Homo sapiens: one gene and its partner. The main gene of each other region encodes a partner of the protein of the gene in region 2 in a complex. Each region holds a gene or a part of one and is shown on either strand. Other genes may lie near its edges. A codon is read from its position in the direction of its gene.

The links.
Region 1: the proteins of IL22 (region 2) and IL22RA2 are in contact, whole or in part, in a crystal structure (PDB 3G9V), measured with the Homo sapiens proteins. Residues at the interface, in NP_065386.1 of Homo sapiens: Phe47, Gln48, Pro50, Thr53, Asn54, Phe57, Met58, Lys61, Ser64, Leu65, Asp67, Asn69, Thr70, Asp71, Val72, Arg73, Leu74, Lys162 (codon at 1,183), Gly165 (codon at 1,174), Glu166 (codon at 1,171), Asp168 (codon at 1,165), Leu169 (codon at 1,162), Met172 (codon at 1,153), Arg175 (codon at 1,144), Asn176 (codon at 1,141); in NP_443194.1 of Homo sapiens: Lys65, Ile66, Tyr99, Gly100, Gln101, Arg102, Trp104, Gln128, Glu129, Pro130, Tyr132, Met148, Pro150, Arg151, Thr153, Trp155, Trp156, Glu157, Glu200 (codon at 1,927), Pro246 (codon at 4,013), Met247 (codon at 4,016), Leu248 (codon at 4,019), Asp249 (codon at 4,022), Arg250 (codon at 4,025).

Annotation. Positions count from the first base shown.
Region 1 is NC_000006.12:137,143,060-137,149,692, reverse strand, and holds the end of IL22RA2 (interleukin-22 receptor subunit alpha-2 isoform 1 precursor), read left to right. Parts: intron 1-1,801; coding exon 1,802-1,971; intron 1,972-3,919; coding exon 3,920-4,069; 3' UTR 4,070-5,873; downstream 5,874-6,633. UniProt on the Homo sapiens protein: Isoform 2 is a receptor for IL22. Binds to IL22, prevents interaction with the functional IL-22R complex and blocks the activity of IL22 (in vitro). May play an important role as an IL22 antagonist in the regulation of inflammatory responses.
Region 2 is NC_000012.12:68,247,673-68,250,843, forward strand, and holds the end of IL22 (interleukin-22 precursor), read right to left. Parts: intron 1,205-3,171; coding exon 1,127-1,204; 3' UTR 570-1,126; downstream 1-569. UniProt on the Homo sapiens protein: Cytokine that plays a critical role in modulating tissue responses during inflammation. Plays an essential role in the regeneration of epithelial cells to maintain barrier function after injury and for the prevention of further tissue damage.

The DNA of each region.
Region 1 (6,633 bases), on a different chromosome or scaffold from region 2:
CAGACTTGTGTATAGAAAAGATCATTTTGACTATATTTTGGGGAACAGGTTGGATGCAGATAAGTGAAGTAGCAGGTTACTAATAATAGTCTACAGGAGACCGAATTTGGCTTATGAAAAGGACTAGAGAAAATTTATTCCTGGAGGGACATTTAGTAAGCAACATTGGCAGGACCAGGTGATAGATCGGATATAATGGTGAAGAGGACATGTCAAAGATGACCTCTAAGTTTCTTGCATGCATAATTAGATGAATTGCTGAGATCTTTTTGATGGGGTTTGATGAAAAAGACCAGTTTGGTGGGATGCAAGGTAATAGAGATTATGAGTTTGGTTTTGAATATGTTAAGCTTAATATGCTTTTAAGAGATCCAGGGGACATATCTCTTCAGATCCAAGACTCAAAGTAAAGTCTTTATTAGAGACAAAAATTTGTGAGTCATTTCATGCATACAGTACAGTGGACATTGATAGGATTGCCTAGGGAGAGAGTAGTGAGTGAGAGGCAGTTTTGAGTAAGACCAGATATTGAGGGACTTTCACCCAAAGATGCCTGAGTAAGAAAAATCTTAAAAGGAGACTGAGAAGGAATAGCCAAAGAGGTAGGAGGAAATCTGTGGGCTGATATGTTCATGAATAGTGCGGGAAGGTAATATTTCAAGGAGAGAGCTGTTAAAGAGTAAAGTGCTATGAGGTCAAATAATCTTGACTTGGTCTTGTAACACAATCACAATCCAGTGAATGGGTCAAGAAACTTGCAACTGATTGCAAAACTGATTTTGCAATCAATTGCAAAATCTAGCATCACAGATCATAAGCCAGGAGCCCTGTGATGTCCGCAGCTGACTCACTGATAGGACAATGCCTGAAATATGTGCCTCACTACAAAAGGGACATGTTTATTTAAAGTTAACTATCCCATTATTCCAATATAGTTGGAAAGTGCTTTAAAAACTTATGGTTCCAAATTAAATAGCCTGGGAGTAGGAAACTCTCTTCTTCTAAAACACTTAGAAATTCTGGATAAAACACATTCTCCAAACTCCACAGAGGGGCAAAAATAAAAATAAAGGGAATCCTTGGGGGCCAAAACAAAGTAAACGGAAATCAAAGGGGAACCAGAAGACCAACACAGTGACTGCCCCAGCTGCCCTGAAGGCATTTGCTGGATGTGGTAACTAGACCCTAAGTGGTAACAGCCACTCCCAGGACAAAAGACAAGGTTTTAGGCCAGCACAAGGCAGGGAGTTAGAACTAATACCCCTACAAAAGTCTTAGAACCTCCAAGGGCTACACTGTCAATAAAAAGTCAGACTAGCCTGGATGTGGTGGCATGCACCTGTAATCTCAGCTACTCAGGAAGCTGAAGGAGAATCACTTGAGTACAGGAGTTTGAGCCCAGCCTGGGCAACATAATGAGATCCTGTCTCAAAAAAAAACCCAAAACCAACCAACCAAACAAACAAACAAAAGTCAGATTAAGAAAAGCCCTTCCAATAAACAGAGGAAAGTAATTTGTATGTTTCCATCTTTATTCTGCTAAGAATCTAACACTCCCTACATTTATAAAGGTTCGAGATTCAAATACATATGCAATTTTCTTTTTTATTTTTGTTTTTTGACATGGGTTTCACTATGCCACACAAGCTATAGTGCAGTGGCATGATCATAGCTCACTGCAGCCTCGGCCTCCCTGGGCTCAGGTGATCCTCCCACCATGCTGATTTGTCATTATACATAATGCGTCTGTATATAATACATTCCTTTGATGATTTGTCAAATTTTTATGTTTTTTCTTCAGCAAAAATAGATCCTCCAGTCATGAATATAACCCAAGTCAATGGCTCTTTGTTGGTAATTCTCCATGCTCCAAATTTACCATATAGATACCAAAAGGAAAAAAATGTATCTATAGAAGATTACTATGAACTACTATACCGAGTTTTTATAATTAACAATTCACTAGAAAAGGTAAGTTCAGATGAATAGATATATTTAGAGTTTTTTTCTTTTGTTTATTTAACCAATATTGTGGTCATATGAGATGTCCTCTTCTGCTACTCTGCCTCCTCTTACTTTTCCTTATCTTTAATTTCTTCTTACTCTCAGCCATCATTGATCAACGGTTGGTGGTGGCATCACCATCAGAATGTGTGTGTGCCCTTTCCATCCTCCGGTTTGTCTCTACAGTCTTCCCTGCATATCTAAAGATTGGTATTAACCGTATTTAATTGCATGTGACTGCCACAAATATTCATTTTTACGGGCTTTGCACACCTTATTTATTTATTTATTTATTTATTTATTTATTTATTTATTATGTATTTTATTTTTAGACCAGGTGTCACTCTGTCACCCAGGCTGGAGTACAGTGGTGATCATAGCTCACTGTAGCCTCTAACTTCTGGGCTTAAGTGGTCCTCCTTCTTCAGCCTCCTGAGTAGCTGGGACTAGAAGCATGCCCATCACATCCAGCTTTTTTTTTTTTTTTTTTTTTTTTTTTTTTGTAGAGGCAAGGTCTCACTATGTTGCCCAGGCTGGTCTCAAACTCCTGGCCTCAACCAATCCTCCAGCCTTGGCCTCCCAAAGTGCTGGGATTGCAGGCATAAGCCACCTCCCCGGCCTCACACCTTATTTTAAAATAGCTTTTGAATCACATGATTATTTTTGTGCCAGTTTTGCTGCGATTTTTTTTTTGAGACAGGGTCTGACTCTGTCACCCAGGCTGGGGTGCAGCAGTGCAATCACAGCTCACGGCAGCCTCAACATCCTGGGCTCAAATGATCCTCCCACCTCAGCCTCCCAAGTAGCTGGGACTACAGGTGCATGCCACCATGCCCAGCTATGTTTTTTTGTACTTTTAGTAGGGACAGGCTCTGGCCATGTTGCCCGGGCTGGTCTTAAACTCCTGGGATCAACTGATCTGCCTGCCTTGGCCTCCCAAACTGCTGGCATTACAAACATGAGCCACCAGGCCTGGCCTTGCAGTGGTATTCTAATCCACCATCGGTGCTTCTGTCTGGATTTGGTGGATAATTGAATTTGTTCCTTTTTTGGTGCCATCTAAGATGAGGGGTTTTTGTCGTAAGGAGCAGAAACCACAGTTTAACTTGTTTAGAAACAAAAGAGGAGGGGAGGGATAATTAGGAGATAGGCAAGCAATCTCAGGGACAGAGGCAGGACGTAGAGTGCCGGCAGCCTTAGTGGTGACTGGGAAGGGAAACGGAAGTGAGTTCTAAGGGATCCTGCTCTGTCTCTCAGACTTTCTGTCTCTATGTGGCCACAGTTTCATGCCTGCAGTTATCTCTGCTCATCTCGCTGCACATCATTCTCACTGCACACTTCAAATTCTTAAAAAGAAGGCCAGGTGGGGTGGTTCATGCCTGTAATCCCAGCACTTTGGGAGGCTGAGGCAGGCAAATCATTTGAGGTCAGGAGTTCAAGACCTGCCTGGTCAACATGGTGAAACTCCATCTCTACTGAAAATACAAAAATTAGCCAGGCGTGGTGGTATGCGTCTGCAATCCCAGCTACTCAGGAGGCTGAGGCACGAGAATCTCTTGAACCTGAGAGGCAGAGGTTGCAGTGAGCCGAGATGGTGACACTGCACTCCAGGCTGGATGATGGAGTGAAACTGTATCTCAAAAAACAAACAAAATTCTTAAAAACAAGACTCTGACCATGGGGTCAACCAGCCAACAGCCCTCAAGGAGAAGTCAAGTTGCACCTACACAGCCACTTGCCTTGTCCCTTTACCAGGCTATGGCCTAGGACTCTAGAAAAGAAGGATGTGTCTGGGAAGAAACCCCACAACCCATCTACTGCTGTGACCATGTACAACTTGTTAATTTAAACAAAAATGCAGCTGTGACTTAATGGCAGCCATTTACCAACTGATTATTTTCTCTCTCGTGTGTAGGAGCAAAAGGTTTATGAAGGGGCTCACAGAGCGGTTGAAATTGAAGCTCTAACACCACACTCCAGCTACTGTGTAGTGGCTGAAATATATCAGCCCATGTTAGACAGAAGAAGTCAGAGAAGTGAAGAGAGATGTGTGGAAATTCCATGACTTGTGGAATTTGGCATTCAGCAATGTGGAAATTCTAAAGCTCCCTGAGAACAGGATGACTCGTGTTTGAAGGATCTTATTTAAAATTGTTTTTGTATTTTCTTAAAGCAATATTCACTGTTACACCTTGGGGACTTCTTTGTTTATCCATTCTTTTATCCTTTATATTTCATTTGTAAACTATATTTGAACGACATTCCCCCCGAAAAATTGAAATGTAAAGATGAGGCAGAGAATAAAGTGTTCTATGAAATTCAGAACTTTATTTCTGAATGTAACATCCCTAATAACAACCTTCATTCTTCTAATACAGCAAAATAAAAATTTAACAACCAAGGAATAGTATTTAAGAAAATGTTGAAATAATTTTTTTAAAATAGCATTACAGACTGAGGCGGTCCTGAAGCAATGGTTTTTCACTCTCTTATTGAGCCAATTAAATTGACATTGCTTTGACAATTTAAAACTTCTATAAAGGTGAATATTTTTCATACATTTCTATTTTATATGAATATACTTTTTATATATTTATTATTATTAAATATTTCTACTTAATGAATCAAAATTTTGTTTTAAAGTCTACTTTATGTAAATAAGAACAGGTTTTGGGGAAAAAAATCTTATGATTTCTGGATTGATATCTGAATTAAAACTATCAACAACAAGGAAGTCTGCTCTGTACAATTGTCCCTCATTTAAAAGATATATTAAGCTTTTCTTTTCTGTTTGTTTTTGTTTTGTTTAGTTTTTAATCCTGTCTTAGAAGAACTTATCTTTATTCTCAAAATTAAATGTAATTTTTTTAGTGACAAAGAAGAAAGGAAACCTCATTACTCAATCCTTCTGGCCAAGAGTGTCTTGCTTGTGGCGCCTTCCTCATCTCTATATAGGAGGATCCCATGAATGATGGTTTATTGGGAACTGCTGGGGTCGACCCCATACAGAGAACTCAGCTTGAAGCTGGAAGCACACAGTGGGTAGCAGGAGAAGGACCGGTGTTGGTAGGTGCCTACAGAGACTATAGAGCTAGACAAAGCCCTCCAAACTGGCCCCTCCTGCTCACTGCCTCTCCTGAGTAGAAATCTGGTGACCTAAGGCTCAGTGTGGTCAACAGAAAGCTGCCTTCTTCACTTGAGGCTAAGTCTTCATATATGTTTAAGGTTGTCTTTCTAGTGAGGAGATACATATCAGAGAACATTTGTACAATTCCCCATGAAAATTGCTCCAAAGTTGATAACAATATAGTCGGTGCTTCTAGTTATATGCAAGTACTCAGTGATAAATGGATTAAAAAATATTCAGAAATGTATTGGGGGGTGGAGGAGAATAAGAGGCAGAGCAAGAGCTAGAGAATTGGTTTCCTTGCTTCCCTGTATGCTCAGAAAACATTGATTTGAGCATAGACGCAGAGACTGAAAAAAAAATTTACTTTGATCTCTGTTTTTGAATTCTTATTATTTATATTTTGCTTACTACCTTTTTTGCCTTTTGTCCTTTTGTGGAGAGGGCGATGAATTAAGAGTAGTGGGGTGGGTGGCGAGTAAGTAAAATTTCAAATAGCATTTTAGTGAATGCAATTCAGTAGTCCTGAAGCCTGACTTAATAAAACAAAATTCATTTATGGTTGTTTCATGAAAGTTATTAGATAGGATCAAGTTTTGTTTGTATATTGTTTGCCTTGCTCTGTTTTTGCTTTTGTGCTTAGGCAAGTGCAAAATACTCTATGGAAATCATAATTGTCATCTTCTTCATGGTGTTAGGGATATATTGTCACATGATTTCAATAAATCCTTTTTTTGCTTTACATTTTGGAATATTTGTTATTTGAGCTTTTAAAAGAAGAACACAATGTTTAAGTCTGCCAGATGAAATTCCAGTTAAACATCTTAGGCCCACACGAAGTTCCAGCCAGGAAGGAGCAAACAGTTTTGAGCCCGACTGAGCTTGCCCTGTGATCAAATGCAATCCCAGTCTTACAGCTGCTCAGGCCAAAAGCGTTGAGGTTATCTTTGTCTCCCCGCTTTCTTTCACATCATATATATTCAATGCACCAATAAATTCTATTGATCTACCTCCAAAATACAACACTTCTCAGAACTACCTATTCCAGGCCACCATCATTTCTCCTCTGGATGGTCACTATGGTTACCTCATTGGTGTCCCCGCTCTGCTTGCCTCCCTCCAGTTTTGTCTTAACAAGGTGGCCAGCATGAGCCTTGGAACATAAATCAGATCATGTCACTTTCCTGCTCTAAAACCGCCAATAGCTTCCCATCTCATAAGGGTAAAAACCAAAGTCTTTATAATGGCCTCCAAGGCGCTGTATGATCTGTTTCCTTTCCTCATAATCTCCCAGGCCTCACTCCCTAATTCTCACCTTCCTCACTCTTCTCCAGCACACAGACCCCTTGCTTGCCCTCAAATACAAATGCCCTAGGCTTCTGGGCCTTTGCACCTGTTATTTGCTGGAAGGCTGTACCCCCAGGTTTCCATAGATTCACTTCCTCACCTCTGTCAGATCTTTGCTGGAAGACTGCCTTATCAGTGAGGCTAACTTCACTATT
Region 2 (3,171 bases):
CTTTCTATGTGTGTTTCATAATATCTTGCCCATCTTCCACCTATGAGACTTCCCTATCAGTGCCAAACTTACTAGTAGGTATGACTCCCCAAAACACAGCTTTCCTTTTCCTTTAGTGTCTTACTTTCAGGGATACTGGAGAGTGCACCTTTCAGTAGGCCTGAACTAGAACTAAAACAGTTTATCTATAGCAATAGAGGCTACATGTACTTCTCTCCAGCAACATCATTCCTTTCTTTTATCCATAAATGACTAATGATAAGTTATTTTCAATTTCTCAACTTTTTTCTTTTCAAAGGTACATGCTGAGTCAACATAATAAATCAGTATAGGCACTATAGCAGAGAGCCTTGAAATCAGATAGACCTGGCTCAATAAGGGTCAACTATTTATAGTTATAAAATGTTTCTTAACATGTTTCTAATGCAGCTTTCTCATTTGTAAAATTAGAATAATACTAATAGCTACCTCATTTTCTTAGAGTCAAGAATAAAGTTATGGGAATGGTAACATGACAATGATGATGATGATGATGACATTAAAGGAGAAAAATCACAAAACGACAAGACTTAGGATATCCAAGTGTTTATTGAGGTCAAATAAACATGTTATAGCTCTATAATTATTGTCATAAATATCAATATTAGCCTTACACTCAAGTAGCAATATCGAATGATGTTTCTATAAATAAATCCATATTAATAAAATGATATAAATAAAATGCAGTCTTATAATAATAATAAATACATTTATAAATATAAAGTACTGATTATGGAAACATGAAGCTATTTAGGGGTTTTTTCCCCTAAAGGAATGGAAAGTAATCTTTTTTATGGAAAAAGACAATTATTTAAAAAATAAATTGTTTTCTGTGTATAGAACACCAGTTACAATGAAATGTTATCAATAAATATCTATGCTTAGAAAGTCTACCTTCTGGTCTTATAAACAAAAGTGGCATTGGTTTCCTTTGTAACTAACGCAGGGGTTCATTTGGAATCCACCCATCATGATGGAGTTTGGCTTCCCATCTTCCTTTTGGTTAAAAAAAATCGCTTTGGGGCATCTAATTGTTATTTCTAGCAGGGAAAGGGGGTTAGTTATTCATTTTTCAGCTTTGCTCTGGTCAAATGCAGGCATTTCTCAGAGACATAAACAGCAAATCCAGTTCTCCAATTGCTTTGATCTCTCCACTCTCTCCAAGCTGTGAAAATAAGAATGCAAAAGTATTTGAGCATTTATGCCATGTTTTCTAAAGTGAACAAATTAGAAATTGCAAGATTAGGTTGATGGAGACAGAAACCGAGTTTTAAGCATTTGTAAAACATTCATAGTAATATCCCTTTAGTATTGTATGATTTGCCAAAGAGCTTAAAATGACGGCTCTCTGGACTGAGAGGCCACCAGCAGGCATCAATTTCAGGTGCACCTCACACTAATGAAGCTGTTTAAAAGCTGGGCAGAGAGTTGACCACCCCTTCTTAACCAGAGCAAGGAGACTGAAGTGAGGCTGGGATCTGGGGGATCCCGAGTGCCACCCATTATGCCTTGGCCTGTTTTGCAGCTCCAAAACTATCTATGACAGATTACTTATAAGGAGCTTGTCCAACCTGCAGCCCACAGGCCGCACATGGCCCAGGACAGCTTTGAATGCACCCTAACAGAAATTCATAAACTTTCTTAAAACAGTATGAGATTTATGCATGGACTTTTTTAGCTCATCAGCTATTGTTCTTGTATTTTATGTGTGTACCAAGACAATTCTTTCAAGGTGGTCCAGGGAAGCCAAATGATTGGACACTCCTGATTTAAAACATCTCTACTCAAATGACTTTGAACCATGTATTCACCAATACATTAAGGCTTTTTCTATTTCCACCTTTTTGACAAACAGTAAAAGAAAAGTTTTCACTTTTGTGGGAAAAATACCAAATAAGTCTTTTCCACTTGCTTTAGTTAATAGAAAACCAGATATAGGTCCTAACATTCATTCTTTCTCTCTCCAAGTCAAATGCAGATGAGGATCCCAAACTTAATCGAAGAGGAAACCCAAATTCAAGTGAAAAGCATTCCCTACTGAAATTCCTCTAATCTATCATATTTGCATTATTTCAAGAAAAACCTTGTCACCATTGTCCTCTGTATAATACATGGTTCTTCCTTTTCCTGCTTTCTTCCGCCCTTTCACCTTTCCATACTTCTTTTGACATAAGGCCAAAAAGATATTCTTTTCTATCTCAAAGACTCCAAGACTATAAAGAATTTTAAAGTTTATCGTCCCCTACTGTCTGTCATGCATTTTACTACCAACCTGCGTTCTGCTTTTACCCCCAACGAGAGGGAATTAATGCCTCCCAAAACCACCCTATTTCAGACAGCTCTGACAGTTTCTCCTCCTGTTGATCTTTCTCTGAACAACATTGCTCTCCCTCCTGTGCTTTCTGAAGCTACCAGCAAAAAAGCATAATCACTCTTCCACATGGCAACCCATTGCAAATATGAAATTGATTCTTTCAAAATGGATTAAAGGTCTTGAAAATCACACAGATCACCATGAGATTCTCCTCTCTCACACTTCACTTTTCTAAAGACAACAAGCAAGATGAAATCAGTAATTTTTTAAGCAAGATGTGTAAAGCATGCCTTGTCTGTGGCATGCTAACATTCAGCCCTCCATGTCTAGATAATAGTTCTATAACAAGAGAACTGGGCTTCACAATTTAAAACTACAAAGCCTTCAATTATCAAAGGAAGAAACAGTCACACTCATTAAATGATGCTCAGGAAGAAACGCTTTTTTAAAAAGTCAAGAGGGAAAAAGGGGGAATTAAGGTTAAGCTTGTTACTGAAAATTCCATCAACTGGAGCCTTCATGTTTCTGAGTATTTAGTTGTACCTGCTTGCAAGAGCGTCACTTTCACTGCTCCTAATCATTCCTCCGGTTTTGGGGTGAGTCACTATTGTTAGTCTAAGCCTTCCATTGTTGTTCTTTTCACCAAATAGGCCACATGATGGTATCATTCACTATAGAAATGTACACCAGCCCACCATGGATAAATGCTCCCTAGGGATTTGTTGAGGGAGTGAAGGAAGAAACTAGAATGGAAGGTCTTGATGGGAGAGAGGAAGAAAAAAAAGCTTACCAATTCAGACTTCCATTTAACTTTAATA